3 linked regions of the Homo sapiens genome follow. The protein of the gene in region 1 purifies or fractionates together with the protein of each later gene. This does not show direct contact. Each region holds a gene or a part of one and is shown in the gene's direction. Other genes may lie near its edges.

Evidence for each region. The genes of interacting proteins can lie anywhere in the genome.
Region 2: the proteins of ZNRF4 (region 1) and SMPD2 purify together in Homo sapiens (affinity purification with mass spectrometry; 2 studies listed by BioGRID and IntAct, with this or other methods). This does not show direct contact.
Region 3: the proteins of ZNRF4 (region 1) and PNPLA6 purify together in Homo sapiens (affinity purification with mass spectrometry; 3 studies listed by BioGRID and IntAct, with this or other methods). This does not show direct contact.

Annotation. Positions count from the first base shown.
Region 1 is NC_000019.10:5,450,593-5,458,187, forward strand, and holds ZNRF4 (E3 ubiquitin-protein ligase ZNRF4 precursor), read left to right. Parts: upstream 1-4,824; 5' UTR 4,825-4,899; coding exon 4,900-6,189; 3' UTR 6,190-6,264; downstream 6,265-7,595. UniProt on the Homo sapiens protein: E3 ubiquitin-protein ligase that acts as a negative regulator of NOD2 signaling by mediating ubiquitination and degradation of RIPK2. Also catalyzes ubiquitination and proteasomal degradation of CANX within the endoplasmic reticulum.
Region 2 is NC_000006.12:109,435,633-109,443,985, forward strand, and holds SMPD2 (sphingomyelin phosphodiesterase 2), read left to right. Parts: upstream 1-5,091; 5' UTR 5,092-5,489; coding exon 5,490-5,539; intron 5,540-5,724; coding exon 5,725-5,821; intron 5,822-5,919; coding exon 5,920-5,996; intron 5,997-6,327; exon of another isoform or gene 6,328-6,341; coding exon 6,342-6,435; intron 6,436-6,577; coding exon 6,578-6,667; intron 6,668-6,910; coding exon 6,911-6,993; intron 6,994-7,119; coding exon 7,120-7,252; intron 7,253-7,344; coding exon 7,345-7,449; intron 7,450-7,634; coding exon 7,635-7,788; intron 7,789-7,884; coding exon 7,885-8,273; 3' UTR 8,274-8,287; downstream 8,288-8,353. Other genes in the region: PPIL6 (probable inactive peptidyl-prolyl cis-trans isomerase-like 6), read right to left, coding at 472-567, 4,824-4,958. UniProt on the Homo sapiens protein: Catalyzes, at least in vitro, the hydrolysis of sphingomyelin to form ceramide and phosphocholine. Also hydrolyzes 1-O-alkyl-2-lyso-sn-glycero-3-phosphocholine (lyso-platelet-activating factor) in vivo.
Region 3 is NC_000019.10:7,559,139-7,562,526, forward strand, and holds the end of PNPLA6 (patatin-like phospholipase domain-containing protein 6), read left to right. Parts: coding exon 1-13; intron 14-1,509; coding exon 1,510-1,626; intron 1,627-1,875; coding exon 1,876-1,972; intron 1,973-2,069; coding exon 2,070-2,179; intron 2,180-2,349; coding exon 2,350-2,424; 3' UTR 2,425-2,626; downstream 2,627-3,388. UniProt on the Homo sapiens protein: Phospholipase B that deacylates intracellular phosphatidylcholine (PtdCho), generating glycerophosphocholine (GroPtdCho). This deacylation occurs at both sn-2 and sn-1 positions of PtdCho.

The DNA of each region.
Region 1 (7,595 bases):
ACACAGGGCTCTGTGAACCCGGGTTTGAATTCAGGCTTGGCCCCTGGTATGCTGTGTGGCTTCAGGTAAATCGAATCACCTCTCTGTTCCTCATCTGGAAGGTGGAATTAACATGCCTCTCTTGCAGGAGTGTGGGGAGGTTTAATCCAGCAGGCACCAGCCCTGAGCTCCCTGAGTCCTCCTGTGGGCAAAAGCCCCAGTCCTCATTTGCAGATGCCCTGGAACCTACCTAGCCTCGCCCAGCCAGGGTGCAGCCTCAGGGAATGCTTGCTGAATGGCAGAATAGACAAATCAGTGACAACACAAGCAAATGCCTTTTCCTGGTAATTAAGTTCACTTGGTAATTAAGTCCTCAAACATCCCAGCCCTCCCTCATCTTAGCCCTAAGGACTTATTTTGCAATTCTCCAAAATGCTCAGAATCAACTGCACCGCCCGTCCCTTCACACGGACTGTGAACCAGGCATCGCCTGGTGTGCTCTTTCCCCCAACTTCCACTTTTCTTGCCAAGTTCCTACTTGTCCTTCAAGTCCACTTGAAATCTCCCCTCCTCCAGGAAGCCTGCCCTGAACCCCATTATCTGGGCTCCCTCAGCCCTGGCTGTCTGGGTCCATCTCTTACCCAAGCCTGGGGCTCCTTGAGGGCTGGGCAGGGGCTGGAGAACTCTTGGAGTCCGCTGTGTTTCCCAGCGCAGATGTGGGCACCCAGTGGGGAACCCTAAATACTCAGTGAGTGCATTCATGGGGCCAGGGTTCAAATCCCAGCTCAGTCACTTTGCGGCTTTGTAGTCCTAGTGAGTCTGGTCCCCTGTCACAGACTCAGTTTCCCCCCTCTAGAAGATGGGGTGTCCACAGGAACCTGGCCCTGGATGCAGGGGGTCAGCGGAGTTTCCCGCAAGGCACGGTCACAGGCTGCAGGCTGCATTGCTCAGTGGCAGTGCTGGTGGCTCCTGCCATCCCCGAGTGCCCCCCTCCTCTGGGGCTCAGTTTCCCCATTTGGCCACACTCCCCCTTAGACAAACACAGACGGGGCGCCACCTGGCTGGGCAGGAGGGGGCCTCGGCAGCTTCTCACGAAGAACAGCAGCCAAGGTGGGGGCTGGCGGGGCTGGCACAGGCCGGCCTCGTTAAGCTGCCAGTCCTTGGCACCACTCTGCTTTCGTGGAGGCGTCTGGAGAAGGGCCCAGGCCTGGCTGTTGGGGGACTGAGGAAGCTGGGATGAAGCTGAGACCCTTTTTCAGAGGGGGCAGGCCCTGAGTGATGGCAAGGAGTTCTATGTTCACTTATTAAGCATCTACTGGATGCCAGACCAGGCTACTCAGGCAGGGCGTTTGCCCGTGCTGTTCTAGCTGCCAGGATCGCGTTTCCTGTTCATAGCACTATCCACTGCTCATTCTGATCTCAGTCTAGAAGACACCACCTCCAGGAAGCCTTCTAGATTCTCTAGAATAAGCCAGGTGCGGCCGGGCGCGGTGGCTCATGCCTGTAATCCCAGCACTTTGGGAGGCCGATGCGGGCGGATCACGAGGTCAGGAGATCGAGACCATCCTGGCTAATGCAGTGAAACCCCGTCTCTACTAAAAATACAAAAAATTAGCCGGGCATGGTGGTGGGCGCCTGTAGTCCCAGCTACTCGGGAGGCTGAGGCAGGAGAATGCCGTGAACCTGGGAGGCAGAGCTTGCAGGGAGCTGAGATGGTGCCACTGCACTCCAGCCTGGGCGACACAGCGAGACTCCGTCTCAAAAAAAAAAAAAAAAAAAAGAATAAGCCAGGTGCCTCCCTTTGGGTTGGCACGGTGCCTGAGTTTTCCCCATCACAGTTTGATCACTCAATATTTTATTTTTAGAGGTGGGGTCTTGCTCTGTGGCCCGCTGCTGGAGTGCCACAGCATGATCAGAGCTCACTGCAGCCTCAAACTCCCAGGCTCAAGCGATGTTCCCGCTTCAGCCTCCCGAGTAGCTGTGATCACCCAATATTATAACTGGGCTGTGGGCAGGTCACTTAGGCCATCAACAAATGCAAACAGAGCACTTCGTACGTGGTAGGCACTATGCTTAGCACCGTCCATGCTCAGCGAACCCCGCAGTGCAGGTGCTGATGCTGCCTCCTCTTTACAGAAGGGGCAACTGAGGCTCACAGTGGCTGAATGGTGGAGTGAAGCCACATGGCCTGGAGTCTGGTGCACAGAAGGGCCCGGGAAAAGCTCATTTCCATCCCCAGGGACAGTGAGCTCACTCACCACTGAAGGAGGCCTAAGCTGGAGGTGTGGGGATTCATTCATTCAACAAATATGTATTGGGCAGCCATTGAAGGCCAGGTTACTCAAGTGTGTCCGAGTGACAGGTGGTGTTGGACGCCTCCAACATCTGTTGTCTTGTCCTCCATAGTAATAGAAGCCCTGGTTTTCAGCTGCACAGTTGGCCATTCAGAATAAATACTACATTTCCCAGCAAGCTTTCTGCCAGGCATGGCCACGTGACTAATTCTGGCCAATGCAGTGTGAGCAGAAGTGGTGCCTGGGATTTCCAAGAAGTGTCCTTAAAGGGACAGGGTGAGCTCTTCCTCACTCTTTCCTCCTCATTGCCTGGGAGGCAGATGTGATGGCTGGAGCTCACGCACCTGCCTTGTCCCACGAGGAGGAGGCCATTTACTGAGGATATGGTGGATGGAAGGAGTCTGGGCTGCAGACACCCCAGCATCTCCATGCCATCCCAGGAATGACTACTCACATTCCACATTCAGAAGCAAATCAGCCCTGTACGCCTACACCGCTGTGGTTGGGTCTTGCTTACCACAGCCAACCCGAGCCTGACCGCTACATTTGTCCCTCTCTGCTTCTGTTTTTCCACTCTTGCCTCCTCTCATGCCTGCTGGACTGAAAAACCTGCCTCTGCTTGGTAGCACTGGGCTGCAAGGGCCATCCACAGTGGCCAAGGCAGTGGCCTCTAGATAGTGTGGCCTCCGTCTGTGGCAGTAGACAGAGCAGGGGCAGGAGTGCCACCAGGGGCCGGGCATGGTGGCTCACAAATGTAACCCCAGCACTTTGGGAGGCTGAGACTGGCAGATCACTTGAGGTCAGGAGTTCGAGACAAGCCTGGGCAACCTAGCAAAACCCCCGTTTCTATTAAGATACAAAAATTAGCCGGGCATGGCAGCATGTGCTCGTGGCCTCAACTGATCTGCCCGCCTCGGGCTCCTAAAGTGCTAGGATTACGGACATGAGCCACCATGCCCGGCCTTTTCTCCCTTTCTTAGAAGGAAAACCTCTGCAAAGATCTTATTTCCAAATAAGGTCCATTCACAGGGGTTGGTCAGAACCAGGGGTTAGGGGTTCAACATCTCTATTTGGGGCCCACCCACTACATGGTACAAGAGATTTGTGTGGGAGGTGATCTCAGAAGCTGTGGGAGGGGAGAGAAGTGGGTGGGGAAGGGAAGGAGACAGTAGCGGGCTCATTGACAAGACAGTACTGGGTTCGTTGACTTATGGAGCTCATTCGACTGGGGACCTCTAGGAGATATGGTAGAACATACTTCGATTTGTCCCATAAGAGGGACGAGGGAGTGGGGGCATTTATCTACCACCTCCCATCTGTCACTGGCTGAGGGCTGCTCTGAGAGGTATTAGGCCAACACAGAAAATCTAAAGACTAAGTAGTCAGCCTGGCAAAGTGAAGTTGAGGAGCAAGAATTCTGTTCCAGGCAGAGGGAACAGCATTTGCAAAATTCTAGAGGTGAACAAAGCAAGATGCCTCTGGGACATTGCAAATCATCCAGGCTTCAGAGATTGGCAGGCGCCCAACCACAGGGGTGCATGTAGGCCACAGAGAAGAGTGTGGGCTTTATCTGGAGGGCAATGGGGAGCCATGGGAGAGTTTAGAGCATGGGAAAGACTATGTTACAGGTCTGGAAGCTGAGGCCCAGAGAGGCTAAGGAATTTAGCTGATGTCATACAGCTTATGAATGGCAGAGACAGAAATCCGACTTGAGTGGGCTGCAGACAGATTGAGGGTGTGAAATTTGGGGGATGGGGACTGGGGAGGAGGTGAGGCTGATGCCCAGGGCTGAAGCTCAGGCAGGGGGCACAGTTGGAGACCCAGCTGGAGAGGCAATGCTATAGGGAGAGAGAATGAAGCTGGTGCAAGCCTGGAGGCCAACCTGGCGGTGCGGACTTGGGACCACTGACCCCCACCAGCCCCACCCTGACCCTGGCACTTGACTCTCCCTCCAAATCAAGTCCAGGAGGGCTCTGAGGATATATGGACTCAGACCTGAGTCCGGATAAAAGAGCCAGCTACGGAGAGAAAGGGCTTTCCAGGCAGGAGGCCCAGCCCATGCAAAGGCCCTGGGGCAGGATCCTGCCTGGTGTGTTGGAGGAACAGCAAGGAGATCTGTGTGGCTGGAGCAGAGTGAGGGATGGTGACAGGGGGTCAGGAATTTGGGTTTTAAGCACTGATCTCATTGTAGGGGGGCGTGGCTTGAACAAGTCTGGGTCACTCTTGGAGTCTCAGACAAGGGTAACATTGAACCTTCTACAGTGTGTTGCTAGGAACCTCCAGAAGCTGATGCTGGTAGCGTCTTCGCACAGTGAGGGCTGAATCTGCACTGCTGGGGGCCGGCAGCCCTTTTGAAGCATCCCTGGGCCTCCTTGGGTCCAAAGATACCCTGAGCCTTCAAGAAGTTATCTCAAAGCTTGCCCGGGTACCGGCAAATCACAGACCTAGGAATGATCCATTGGCCACAGGCCCAGGCAGCTGGCAGCTCCTGGGACAGAATGTAGCAGGGCGATGTCACAGAAGCTGGGGGCATCTAGAACCCTGGTGACTCCTGGTCTCCATGTCATCTGCCAGAAAGGCCACCTGCGCCAGCACCTCCTGAGACCGGCCTTCAAAGACACGACGCATGCCGCTCTGCCGTCCGGAGCACTTAATGCCTAGAGCCAGCAGGGTCCCAGTGGCCGCGTCACTGCCTCTGAGCCACGCGGTCATTCCAACTCAACTGCCCTCGCGTCCTGGCCACAGGCCCCCTGGGAGACCCCGGAGATGCCCAAAGGCCTCATGCCTGCCGCCTCCAGTGGGACCTAGCAGCACACAGACAGCGAAGCGGGTGACCATGGGGTGGCCACGGCCGGGCCGAGCCCTCGTGGCAGTCAAAGCCTTGCTGGTCTTGTCGCTGCTCCAGGTGCCCGCGCAGGCAGTGGTACGGGCCGTGCTGGAAGACAACTCGAGCTCGGTGGACTTTGCGGATCTGCCGGCGCTGTTCGGCGTCCCCCTGGCCCCCGAGGGCATACGGGGCTACCTGATGGAGGTCAAGCCAGCCAACGCGTGCCATCCCATCGAGGCCCCGCGACTGGGCAACCGCTCTCTGGGCGCCATCGTGCTGATCCGCCGCTACGACTGCACCTTCGACCTCAAGGTGCTGAACGCCCAGCGCGCCGGCTTCGAGGCGGCCATCGTGCACAACGTCCACTCCGACGACCTCGTGAGCATGACCCACGTCTACGAGGACTTGAGGGGCCAGATCGCCATCCCCTCAGTGTTCGTGAGCGAGGCCGCCTCGCAGGACCTGCGGGTCATCCTGGGCTGCAACAAGTCGGCCCACGCGCTGCTCCTGCCCGACGACCCACCGTGCCACGACCTGGGCTGTCACCCCGTGCTGACCGTGTCCTGGGTGCTGGGCTGTACCCTGGCCCTGGTCGTATCAGCCTTCTTTGTCCTGAACCACCTGTGGCTCTGGGCCCAGGCCTGCTGCAGCCACAGACGGCCGGTGAAGACGTCTACCTGCCAGAAGGCCCAGGTCCGCACCTTCACGTGGCACAACGACCTGTGTGCCATCTGCCTGGATGAGTATGAGGAGGGCGACCAACTCAAGATCCTGCCCTGCTCCCACACCTACCACTGCAAATGCATTGACCCCTGGTTCTCCCAAGCCCCCCGGCGCTCCTGCCCCGTGTGCAAACAGTCGGTGGCCGCCACAGAAGACAGCTTTGACTCCACCACCTACAGCTTCAGGGACGAGGACCCCTCCCTACCGGGCCACCGGCCCCCCATCTGGGCCATTCAAGTCCAGCTACGCTCCCGGAGGCTGGAGCTGCTGGGCCGCGCCAGTCCCCACTGCCACTGCAGCACCACGTCCCTGGAGGCAGAGTATACCACTGTCTCCTCAGCCCCTCCTGAGGCCCCTGGTCAGTAAAGATCTAGGGCAGGGAGGGGGGTGCAATGAGGAATGTTTCTGGTCTGAAAAGAATAAAGTGGGTTTGAAAGCGGATTCTCAGCCTCGCTGCTGTTGGGCCACCCGCCTCTGACTGGGGTTGGGGGACACCCATCCCCATCAAGCCTAAGGCCAATCCCCGTTTCTGCGGGCGGGAGAGCGAGGGGTGGTGAGGGCTGGGGGGCCTTTTTGGGGCGGCTGTGACCGTGGTGCCGGAGTGGCTTTGAGACGGGTCGTCTGTGCTTTGGTTCCAGTCCCGGGCACACGGGTCACTCATCCTGGATGGCCTTATTCTTCATTCACATTTTTTCTTTTAAAATAAACGTTTTATTTTGGAACTGGTTTAGATTTCCAGAAAAGTTGCAAAGGTGCCATAGAGTTCTCCAACCCCTTTTACTCCGTTTCCTCTTATGTCTCATGGGATCCCAGGTGTGATGGGATGGGAGGCCGAGGTGGGAGGTTCGCTCAAGGTTAGAGGTTTGAGACCAGCCTGGGCAACATAACAAGACCCCACCTCTACAAAAAAATTTTCTTAGGCCGGGCGTAGTGGCTTACGCCTGTAATCCCAGCACTTTAAGAAGCCAAGGCGGGCGGATCATGAGGTCAGGAGATCAAGACCATCCTGGCCAACATGGTGAAACCCTGTCTCTACTAAAAACTACAAAAATGAGCTGGGCGTGGTGGTGCGTGCCTGTAGTCCCAGCTGCTCGCTACTCAGGAGGCTGAGGCAGGAGAATTGCTTGAACCCAGGAGGTGGAGGTTGCAGTGAGTTGAGATCACGCCACTGCACTCCAGCCTAGCGACAGTGAGGCTCCGTCTCAAAAAAGAAAAAAAAATTCATTAGCCAAGTGTGGTGATACATGCCTGTAGTTCCAGCTACTTGGGAGGCTGAGGTGGGAGGATTGCTGGAGCCTGGGAGGTGAGCTATGATCACACCACTGCACTTCAGCTCGGGCAACAGAGTGAGACCCTGTCTCAAAAAAAAAAAAAAAAAATGCAAGGAGGCAAGGGAGTTTTCTGGGCAGTGAGGGGGCTGTTTGACCATGCTCCGACGAGAAATAGCTACTAGGTGAGGTCATAGGAGCAAAAGGGTCAAGGTCGCCTCTGAGACATTCCCTGGAACAGTGTGAATGTGAGAGTCACGTGCAAGATTCCGACTGAAGCCCAAGCAACCTCCAGAGAGCGCCCACTCTGTGCCAGACGCGGTTCCAGGCACACAGACACAGCAGTGAACAAAACAGGGGAAAGTCCCTGCTCTCCAGGGACTGCTATTCCAGGGTGGGGGATAGATACAAAGTATATAATTAAATAAATGAGCAGGGAGATGTCAGCACGAGATAAATCCTGGGGCTAAAACACAAGGGGGTCATGAGATGGAGAGAGCTTGG
Region 2 (8,353 bases), on another chromosome or scaffold:
ACAGCTTGGTGGCCGAGCTCAGTGACTCACGCCTGTAATCCCAGCACTTTGGGAGGCCGAGGTGGGTGGATCACTTGAGCTCAGGAGTTTGAGACTACCCTGGGCAACATGGTGAAACCCCATCTGTTAAAAAAATACAAAAACTAGCTAGGTGTGGTGGCGTGTGCCTGTAATCCCAGCTACTTGCGGGGCTGAGGTAGGAGGACTGCTTGAATCCAGGAGGTTGAAGCTGCAGTGAGCCAAGATCGCCCCACTGCACTCCAGCCTGGGTAACAGAGTGAGACCCTGTCTCAAAAACAAAACACCTAGCTTGGTAAATGATTAATACAATTTAGGAAAAGTACGTAATGTAGAGAAATAAAATCTAGTTACACTAAAATTACTCTTTCAGTTTTTCCAAAACAATGCATAAATAATTCAGGCAAAACTTGGCTTGTTGTCTATATCCCCCACACCCCAAATATCCTTTACCCTTTTTTTCTCCTGTAGATATTGATGCCATGCAAATTCTTGAAGAGGAACTAATATAGGATCTTCAAATTTGGATGGATGATTATTCTTCAGATTCTGGATTTCGAAATAGAATAATTATTTTAGAGTTAGTTCTCTTTTAAAGTCAAAATCATGTTCCCCAATTTTTACGGGGTTTCCAGAAGTTTTATACAACACAAGCCCAGGCCATGCAGTCCGACTGAGATATTCCTTGCTCGCTGTCAGAGGCCCTTGTGTTCACCTCCAAGTTGCTCCCCAGTCCAGGGAGCTTATTTGTATAAGTGCCTCGAAGCCAAGAACTATGTCTTAGAGGCTGGGCGCAGTGGCTCACACCTGTAATCTCAGCACTTTGGGAGGCTGAGGTGGGCAGATCACCTGAGGTCAGGAGATTGAGACCAGCCTGGCCAACATGGCAAAAACGTGTCTCTACTAAAAATACAAAAAAATTAGCCAGGCATGGTGGGTGTGTGCCTGTAATCCCAGCTACTTGGGAGGCTGAGGCAAGAGAATCACTTGAACCTGGGAGGCAGAGGTTGCAGTGAGCAGAGATCACGCCACTGCACTCCAGCCTGGGTGACAGAGTGGGACTCTATTTCAAAAAACAAAAAACAAAAAAACAAAACAAAACAAAAAAAACTCTGTCTTAGTATTCCTATATTCCCACCTGCCACAATCTCTGGCACACAGCAGCTGAATAAAGAGAGGAATACATAAATGGGTTAACGCCAATAGCTTTGTGATATGCTATGTTCTTTAAGACTAGTTTTTCCCTAAGTACAACTCTTGCTAAACCTCGGTGGATCTACAGATACTTTACTTATAACTAAAATAAATAAATAAATGTTCTTGCTTTAATTCACTGATGAATGGGGGATGACCAAAAAGATAATAACGTTGTGGTTATACCCCTTAGGAAAAAGAGAAGTACGAAATCAGTTTAGGTTTAGATACGGAATATGTTCTAGTTTGACATAGATTGTCTGCAGGAATCAGAGAAAATTCTTATTGGTTAGCAATCCAGGCTTGGTTCTTGATATTCGTTATACTTTGTCTCCCTCTAAAGCAAGAGAACACAGGTGAAGCAGTAACAGGCCTCTTTTCTGAGTGGGTTTGGGAAGTAGATGGACCAAAGGGAAAAGTGACAGCTGCTGCAGGTGGCACTTCCCTGCTAGGGACAGTGCTTGGAGGTCCTGTCATGGTCCAAAAGAGGGTGCTGGCCTAGCACAGGTCATCAGGGGTGAGTATTCCAAGGGGAGAAAACCAGGATGTGAGTGTGGCCTACTTTGGGAATACTCATGAAGAGGGCAACAATAATTAGGCCATTTCCTTCTGTCCCCAAGCAATAGCTGACGCATCTTGTTTCTCAGTTCCAGTGTCTGTGCTCAGTTTGAGGCAATACTGCAGGTTGACTACTATTTCTTTTCTTTTTTTTTTTTTTTTTTTTTTTTGAGACGGAGTCTCGCTCTGTTGCCCAGGATGGAGTGCAGCGGTGTGACCTCAGCTCACTGCAACCTCCGTCTCCTGGGTTCAAGCAATTCTCCTACCTCAGCCTCCCAAGTAGCTGGGATTACAGGCACCCGCCACCACGCCCAGCTAATTTTTGCATTTTTAGCAGAGACGAGGTTTCACCATGTTGGCCAGGCTGGTCTTGGCCAGGCTGGTCTTGAACTCCTGACCTTAGGCGATCTGCCTGCCTCAGCCTCCCGAAGTGCTGGGATTACAGGCGTGAGCCACCGCACCTGGCCCGGTTGACTGCTATTTCTAACCATCTGGAATAAACTATAAATCCAGCAGTTTTCAAATGAAACACATGTCTTTTTAGTAATTTAGTATTTGTTGTAGAACGGACTATATCCAAATGAAAATGTATGCAATATTTGTTCCTATTCTCTACAAATTTCAATCTTTTGTGTGTTTGGTTTTTACATTTTGTTTTTTATTTTTCAATTGACATATAATAATTGCACATATTTATGGGGTAGTGATGTCTCAATACATATAATGTATACTTATCATTAGCATATCCATCATCTCAAACATTTATTATTTCTTTGTGTTGGGAACATTCAACACAAATCTAAATCTTTGTCAGTTAATCAGGCATCTGGGATCGCTCACAAATTATCATGTTAGGAATACATTCAGATATCCTTTATTAAGACAGAACTAGAGGCTGGGCATCACCGTGGCCCATGCCTATAATCCCAGCACTTCGGGAGGTCGAGGAGGATTGCTTGAGCCCAGGAGTTCAAGACCAGCCTAGGCAACACAGTGAGACCCCCATCTCTTCCAAAAAAAGAAAAAAAAAACTAGCTGAATTTTCATATTTGAATATAACTACAGTAGGTAAAAGTTTAAGAAAGGGAAAATTGACATTATTAATACAATAAAGATATTGTTTTCTCGACCTACTGTCTTCTACATCAGGGGTTGGAGAGGAATAATTTTTAGATTTGTAAACAGTTTTTTGTTTTTTTTTTTAAGACAGAGTCTCACTCTTGTTGCCCAGGCTGGAGCACAGTGGCACGATCTCAGCTCACCGAAACCTCCACCTCCCGGGTTCAAGCGATTCTCCAGCCTCAGCTTCCCGAGTAGCTGGGATTACAGGCGCCCGCCACCATGCCTGGATAATTTTTGTATTTTTAGTAGAGATGGGGTTTCACCATGTTGGCCAGGCTGGTCTTGAACTCCCGATTTCGTGATCTGCCCGCCTCAGCCTCCCAAAGTGCTGGGATTATAGGCAAGAGCCACCGCGCTCGGCCTGTAAACAATTCTAAAAAATCAAAAGAATTGTATTTCACGTTATGTGAAAATTATACGCAAGTCAAATTTCGTGTCCATAATATGGTTTTACTGGAATACTGTCATTCATTTCCATCTCTGTGTCTGCTTTTGCAACACAGGAAAAAGCTAAACAGGTGTGACTGAGACCCTATTGCCAAGAAGGCCTAACATATTTACTATCTGGACTTTACAGAAAAAAACTTGTCAACACTTTCTTTACAATGTGGAGTCGGCACAGAAAATATGTGCCTTCAGAAAAAGAGCGAAAAAAAAGAGAAAAAAAATCTCTGAAACTCATTAATACATTAACTTTGTAATTAACTTCATGGCCATTAACTTTGGTAATAAAAGGTTGCTGATCCCGTCTGCCCAAGCAACACAGACCACAATTTCTACTTTTGATGATTCATGTATTATTTTCACAGACTTCTGATCACTTGTTTTCTTTTTATTATTTATTTATTTTGAGACGGGGTCTGGCTCTGTCGCCCAGGCTGGAGGGCAATGGCGCGATCTCAGCTCTCTGCAAACTCCGCCTCCCGGGTTCAAGCGATTCTTGTGCCTCAGCCTCCTGAGTAGCTGGGATTACAGAGACCGCCACCACGCCCGGCTAATTTTTTGTATTTTTAGTAGAAACGGGGTTTCACCATGTTGGCCAGGCTGGTCTAGAACTCCGCCTCTGCCTCCCAAAGTGCTGAGATTATAGGCGTGAGTCACCGCGCCAAGATATCTTCTATTTGGGAACATTTTGTTGTCAAGTATCCAGCTGGGTACTTCGGGAGTTAAAAACATTAATTAAGGCATGGTCCTGGAGTCAAGTGAGCTTCGGCGAGAAGTTTGCCATGGACAGCATTTCTGGAGCAAACCCTGTAAGAAGGGCTGAATTCTACATGCCGACATTTCATACATTTCTCCTGCATTTCAGGTTGTAAGTGTGCTGCAGCATGACTGATCTGGCCAAATTCTTCCAGTTTCCTCAAGTGCTTTTCCTTTAGTATCGTTCTGAGTGTTTACAAAGAAATGATTTTCCAAAGCACTTGTGAAGCATCTAGTTCGATTGGAACGCAGTGACGGCTCTATAAAATTCAAAGAAAAGAATCTCCCCGCATGAATAGTTAACAAAAATCGCTTGGGCCGAGGTGGCGGGGTTGTAAAAATTAGCTAGTTATATAGTAATCATTTTTCCATAAATTTAAATATCTCTAATTAAAGAAAAAATTGACGTAGAACAAAATCTGCGGGTGTGTGTGTGTGTGTCTCGGAGGGGATTACCTTATCTCCCAGCGCGGTTCTGAACCCTTCCTTCGCTCAGTTCTCCCTTTAAAAGTCGCCAAGTGGAACGCCCGCCCCCGGACCCGCACTTGCCCCCCTATACTCTCCTCCCGGTCCTCCAGACGGAGCCCGCCCGGCCAGGACACGCCAGCCCCTTCCTCGGCCGGTGGGGCCTCGACCCCCGCCGCCTCGAGGAGGCGCGGCGCCTGCAGTCCACGCGGCCGAGAGCGGGTAGCGGGGAGGGCCGCCCACGACGGAGGTTTCTCTGTGGTTACCTCAGCGGCGCTCTTCGCAATCTGAAAGTTGGGGCAGCTGAAGAGCCCCACCACCTTCACCTGCAGCGGCCGCTCCGGCAGCGACGGCGAGCCGCACCTAGCGTGCGGGGGCCCGCACGGCTGCGGCCTTGCCATGGCCGCGCCCGGGGACGCCCGGTGACCCCAAACACTGCGCGTCGCTCCGGCAACCGCGCGGCCCCGCCTCCGCCGCTCGCAGGAGGCGGGGCCCAGGGGCGGGTCGAGGGCGGCCCGTGGCGGCTGGGCCTTTCCTCAACTTTGCGCCTGTTGCTGGGCCGCCGGCGCGCGGGCGGCCGCGACCGCCGGGGACGAGCTTGGAGGAAAAGGAACCGGGAGCCGCCCACCCGGGGGCGCTCTCCGGACCCCCAGGGTCCTAGCGCGCGGCCCTTACCGAGCCTGGGCGCCCGGATTTCGGCAGCGGATCGCCTTTCCGGGTTGGCGGCCCGCCTGATTGGGAACAGCCGGCCGGTTGCCGGGGGAACGCGGGAGTCGGGCCCGACCTGAGCCACGCGGGCTTGGTGCCCACCTGTGCGCGCCGCCTGCGAAGAAGGAACGGTCTGGGGAGAAGGCGCCGCCGGCCGCCCCCGTCCCCACCGCGGCCGTCGCTGGAGAGTTCGAGCCGCCTAGCGCCCCTGGAGCTCCCCAACCATGAAGCCCAACTTCTCCCTGCGACTGCGGATCTTCAACCTCAACTGCTGGTGAGTGCGTCTGCGGAGTGCGGTCTGGGGGCCACCTTCCGTTCGCACCCATGCAGCCTTCCTCCCCCTATCCCGCCCCACGATCTCAGGGTGTAGGGAAAACCCGAACCTCCAAAGTCCACATCTGGCCCCAGCGCCGGTGGTCCCAGCAGTCGCCTCCCCTGCCCCGCTCTTCCCTTCCTTAGGGGCATTCCGTACTTGAGCAAGCACCGGGCCGACCGCATGAGGCGCCTGGGAGACTTTCTGAACCAGGAGAGCTTCGACCTGGCTTTGCTGGAGGAGGTGAGATTGTGCAGCACGGTGCGGAACCCAGGCTGGGAGGAGGGACAGACCGTCCCACTGGGGAAAGACCAAGCAGGCATCCTCACCGCTTCCCTCAGGTGTGGAGTGAGCAGGACTTCCAGTACCTGAGACAGAAGCTGTCACCTACCTACCCAGCTGCACACCACTTCCGGAGGTGAGAAGCCCACTGGCCTGAAGCCTGTTGTCATCCCAGGAGGCTCTTGGCCCTGCCAGCCCTTCCCTATCCTGCCTGCACTCTCCAGTCTCCTCCAGCCTCCTCTCCCTCTGGATGTGAGAGAAGGAGAAGGGTGAACCAAGAAGGTCCTATGACTTCAGCCCATTTCAGCTTTGTTTTCTGGCTGCCCTATACTCCTCCAAAGGCTGTCGCCTTGGTTCTAGGGCTAGTCCCAGCAGTAGAAAAAGAAAAAAATAGCTGATCAGAGCTGGAAGACAAGGGAGGGGAAGAAGGCTGGGTGTCTCTCCCTGTTTTTCTGGTTATTAAGCAGGGCTTGGCTTTCAGCGGAATCATTGGCAGTGGCCTCTGTGTCTTCTCCAAACATCCAATCCAGGAGCTTACCCAGCACATCTACACTCTCAATGGCTACCCCTACATGGTAAGGCAGACCTTTGACCTCTTCCACCTCCCTTCCCCACCTCCAGTAATACAAGGTAGAGGAGGCAGCCCTCTGAGAGCTGCAGGGGATGGGCAGAAAGATGGTGGCGGTGCCCTGAGTTTCTATCTCCTCCTGCCTGCAGATCCATCATGGTGACTGGTTCAGTGGGAAGGCTGTGGGGCTGCTGGTGCTCCATCTAAGTGGCATGGTGCTCAACGCCTATGTGACCCATGTGAGTGAAGCTGGCAGTGCCTAGGGCTGGGACATGCAGCCCAGTCCTGGGACAGAGAGATGGTACTTCTCTAGCTCTCATACCTGGGGATGAGGTGTGGGGGCAAGATCTTATAAGGAAGCAATGGGCAAGGCTTATCCATTGTATACCAAACACCATGCCAAGTGACAGACACAGGCTTGATTCAGACATACCCCTGGGACCCTCAGTCTTATCTGCTGTGATCTCATCTATCTTGCTCAGCTCCATGCCGAATACAATCGACAGAAGGACATCTACCTAGCACATCGTGTGGCCCAAGCTTGGGAATTGGCCCAGTTCATCCAGTGTGTGAGCCTGGGCTTGAAATGGGAAGTGGGATGGGACCCAGGGGCTGAGGGTGAACAAGGCCCCAGTCATGGGGAAGAGCTGGTGATGGAAGAACTCCCGCCTCACCAACCTGGTTCCCCCAGCCACACATCCAAGAAGGCAGACGTGGTTCTGTTGTGTGGAGACCTCAACATGCACCCAGAAGACCTGGGCTGCTGCCTGCTGAAGGAGTGGACAGGGCTTCATGATGCCTATCTTGAAACTCGGGACTTCAAGGTGAGGACTTGCCTGTTACTTCCCCACCTATATCCCCAGCTTCTCTCCCTCCTTCTCCCCCACATCCTAGCATGAGCCAATGATTCCCTTAGGGCTCTGAGGAAGGCAACACAATGGTACCCAAGAACTGCTACGTCAGCCAGCAGGAGCTGAAGCCATTTCCCTTTGGTGTCCGCATTGACTACGTGCTTTACAAGGTCAGGCTCCTCCCTTCAACATGCTTTCATATGCTGTGTCTCTTTGTCTACTAACCTGTGTAGATCCTTTGCTCAGCTAGTCTAGTCTTGGACCACTGATGGGTGGAAAGTGGGGTAGCCGGGAGCTGGTTCTCTGGGAAGAGGCCCTCATATATAAGCTTCTCTCTGGCCCTTACTTTTCCTAGGCAGTTTCTGGGTTTTACATCTCCTGTAAGAGTTTTGAAACCACTACAGGCTTTGACCCTCACAGGGGCACCCCCCTCTCTGATCATGAAGCCCTGATGGCTACTCTGTTTGTGAGGCACAGCCCCCCACAGCAGAACCCCAGCTCTACCCACGGTGAGTCACCCCCACCCTTTCCTTGGCCCTTGCCCCGCTTGAAGCAGCCCTTCCACTCTTGACTCTCTCCTGCCCCACTGCCCTGCTCTGTTGTAGGACCAGCAGAGAGGTCGCCGTTGATGTGTGTGCTAAAGGAGGCCTGGACGGAGCTGGGTCTGGGCATGGCTCAGGCTCGCTGGTGGGCCACCTTCGCTAGCTATGTGATTGGCCTGGGGCTGCTTCTCCTGGCACTGCTGTGTGTCCTGGCGGCTGGAGGAGGGGCCGGGGAAGCTGCCATACTGCTCTGGACCCCCAGTGTAGGGCTGGTGCTGTGGGCAGGTGCATTCTACCTCTTCCACGTACAGGAGGTCAATGGCTTATATAGGGCCCAGGCTGAGCTCCAGCATGTGCTAGGAAGGGCAAGGGAGGCCCAGGATCTGGGCCCAGAGCCTCAGCCAGCCCTACTCCTGGGGCAGCAGGAGGGGGACAGAACTAAAGAACAATAAAGCTTGGCCCTTTAGTGGCTCTGCCTTTTTCCTTGTAGAGGCGATGGGAGCCAGGGGTCAGTGTGACTGTCACACTACAG
Region 3 (3,388 bases), 2.1 Mb from region 1:
CGACCAGATCTATGTGAGTGGGCAGGAGTGGCATGGTGCCTGCATAGGTGGTCCGGCTAAGCTTTGCTACTTAAAGCCCAGAGTGGTATGAGGGGGAGGAATCCAGGAGGAATCCAGGAATCCCATCTGGAATCTCTGGAAAACAGATCAGTGATCAATTGGTGATGTCTGCAGGGGATGTAGTAGGGGTGTGGCTGTGCATGTGCTGTGTAAGAACTTTCTCCTTATAGGCCAGCTGCACCCCTGGAAGCACTGTATAGTGATTTCTACTGCCATTTCTGCATTGGTGGGAATGAGAATAGTGATGAAGCAGAAATGTCTGCCACAGTTCCAGGAGAGGGAGGTAGCAGTGCGTGTGTTATGTGCTACTGACCCTGAAAAATGTGCCATAGCCCAAGCCAATTGAAATTGATCAGGGGGCCAGGCATGGTGGCTCATGCTTGTAATCCCAGCACCTTGGGAAGCTGAGGTGGGAGGATTGCTTGAAACCAGGAGTTCAAGACCAGCCTGTGCAACATAGCAAAACCCCATCTCTACAAAGATTAAAAATAAAAAATTAGCTGGGTGTGGTTGTGCATGCCTGTCACCCCAGCTACTTAGGGGGCTGAGGTGGGAGGACCGCTCGAGCCCAGGAGTTTGAAGCTGCAGTGAGCTATGATTGCGTCACTGCACTCCAGCCTGGGTGACAGAGCAAAACTCTGTCTCTAAGAAAAAGAAAGGGCCAGGCATGGTGGCTCATGCATTTAATCCCAGCATTTTGGGAGGCCGAGGTGGGCAGATCACTTGAAGTCAGGAGTTCAAGACCAGCCTGGTCAACATGGTGAAACCTCATCTCTACTAAATATACAAAAATTAGCTGGGTGTGGTGGCACATGCCTATAGTCCCAGCTACTTGAGAGGCTGCAGCAGGAGAAATCGCTTGAACCTAGGAGGCAGTGGTTGCAGTGAGCCAAGATTGTGCCACTGCACTCCAGCCTGGGTGACAGAGTGAGACTCTGTCTCAAAAAATAATATTAATTTTAAAAATTAAAGATAAAAATAATAAAAATTTTTTTAAAAAGAAAGAAATTGATCAGTAGCTGCAGCCCAGAAGCCCTGAGTCTGAGAAGAGATGTGTGATGTCCCTTGTGGGCTCACTGGGATAGCATGCCATGAGAAATTCAAGATGTTTGCTGTGGGCTTGGGGATGGCGACATCCACAGATGTACTGCCTGTTTGCAGACTTCAAAATAAGCTCACACATCACCACCTTGTGTTATTTGCTACCCAGCACCCTGCATGGGGCTGTGTGGGAAAGAACATGGAGAGATTGATTGGTAATGTCTGTCAAGGGCAGGACAGGGGATGTGTAGGCGAGTGTGCTATGTGCAGCTGACTCTGAAATAGGTTTAGTCTCAAATGCAACTCCCCCAGAGAATCAGGCTTTTGAGGGGCCAGAGAATGGGCAGACAGAGTGGGGACAAGCAAAGCAGGGTTGCAGACATGGACCCAGCCCCTCATTTCCCACAGGATGTGGGCTACCAGTACGGGAAGGCGGTGTTTGGAGGCTGGAGCCGTGGCAACGTCATTGAGAAAATGCTCACAGACCGGCGGTCTACAGACCTTAATGAGAGCCGCCGTGCAGACGTAAGCCTGTGATGCCCCCAGGGCCACTCTGACTCCACTGATTACAGAACCCAAGCCCCCTTAAAGTCTCCCCGAAACCTCAGATGACCCCACATGTCCCTGGGTTTTGCTGAGCTCTCAGACCTCTGCTGACTTCAGAGAGTTCCCACCCTAGGATCTCCTCTGAGCCCCCAATGCACCACTGGGCCCCCCAGGGGCCCCAAGACTCTGTGGGCCCCCCCTAAGAGCCTCACCAGTGTCACCCCACAGGTGCTTGCCTTCCCAAGCTCTGGCTTCACTGACTTGGCAGAGATTGTGTCCCGGATTGAGCCCCCCACGAGCTATGTCTCTGATGGCTGTGCTGACGGTGAGGGGCCCAGGGGACCCCCCAAGAGGGAGGGGAGTGGCTGGAGATGGCAGGCCAGCCCCAATCCCCTCACCTGTGCCCTGCTCCCCGATTCCAGGAGAGGAGTCAGATTGTCTGACAGAGTATGAGGAGGACGCCGGACCCGACTGCTCGAGGGATGAAGGGGGGTCCCCCGAGGGCGCAAGCCCCAGCACTGCCTCCGAGATGGTGAGAGTGGGTGGCCCAGGGTCCCCTCACATCCCCCAGAGGGTCATGAGTACAGTGTCAGGCAGGGGAGCCGGGGGCGTATTTGAGATCCTGTGTGTGCTGGGTGCTGGCTGACATGTGACGCATCAGTGTCCCGTGCTGGGTGACGTGTGTGTGACCTTCCCTCGCAGGAGGAGGAGAAGTCGATTCTCCGGCAACGACGCTGTCTGCCCCAGGAGCCGCCCGGCTCAGCCACAGATGCCTGAGGACCTCGACAGGGGTCACCCCCTCCCTCCCACCCCTGGACTGGGCTGGGGGTGGCCCCGTGGGGGTAGCTCACTCCCCCTCCTGCTGCTATGCCTGTGACCCCCGCGGCCCACACACTGGACTGACCTGCCCTGAGCGGGGATGCAGTGTTGCACTGATGACTTGACCAGCCCCTCCCCCAATAAACTCGCCTCTTGGAAATGGCTTCCTGTCGTTTTCGGACTGGGGACCCACCTTCTGTGCTCAGGATGGCTGGGGCTGGGGTCTGACACCACCTGGTGCTTGCCCCCCACAGGGAATGCCTTTCTAGAATCCACACGGAGCCCCACTAGGTGCTTGTCCCCACTCTGCCCCTTCTCTGGCTCCTCAGAAGCCAGTGCTGACTCCGGACCACAGGGCCAGACATTCCGTGCCACCCTCCCGGGCTCACAGGTGCTCTTGGGGGCCCGATATGGCACCCCTCAATTTCTTTCTGTGTGTTTTTTGTTTTTTGTGTTTTTTTTTTTGAGATGGAGTCTCACTCTGTCACCCAGGCTGGAGGCTGGAGTGCAGTGGCATGATCTCTGCTCACTGCGACCTCCATCTCCCGGGTTCAAGCGATTCTCCTGCCTCAGCCTCCTGAGTAGCTGGGATTACAGGCGCCCGCCACCACACCCAGCTAAATTTTGTGGGGGGGTTTTTTGGTTTTGTTTTGTTTTTTGTTTTAATTTTTGAGACAGTGTCTCTCTCTGTCACCTAGGCTGGAGTGCAGTGATGCGATCTCAGCTTATTGCAGCCTCCAGCTCTTGGATTCAAGTGATTCTCATGCCTCAGCCTTCCAAGTAGCTGGGGCCACAGGCGAGCACCACCATGCCTGGCTAATTTTTGTATTTTTTGTAGAGAAGGGGTTTCACCATGTTGGCCAGTCTGGTCTCAAACTCCTGGCCTCAAGCCATCCACCTGCCTCAGCCTTCCAAAGTGCTG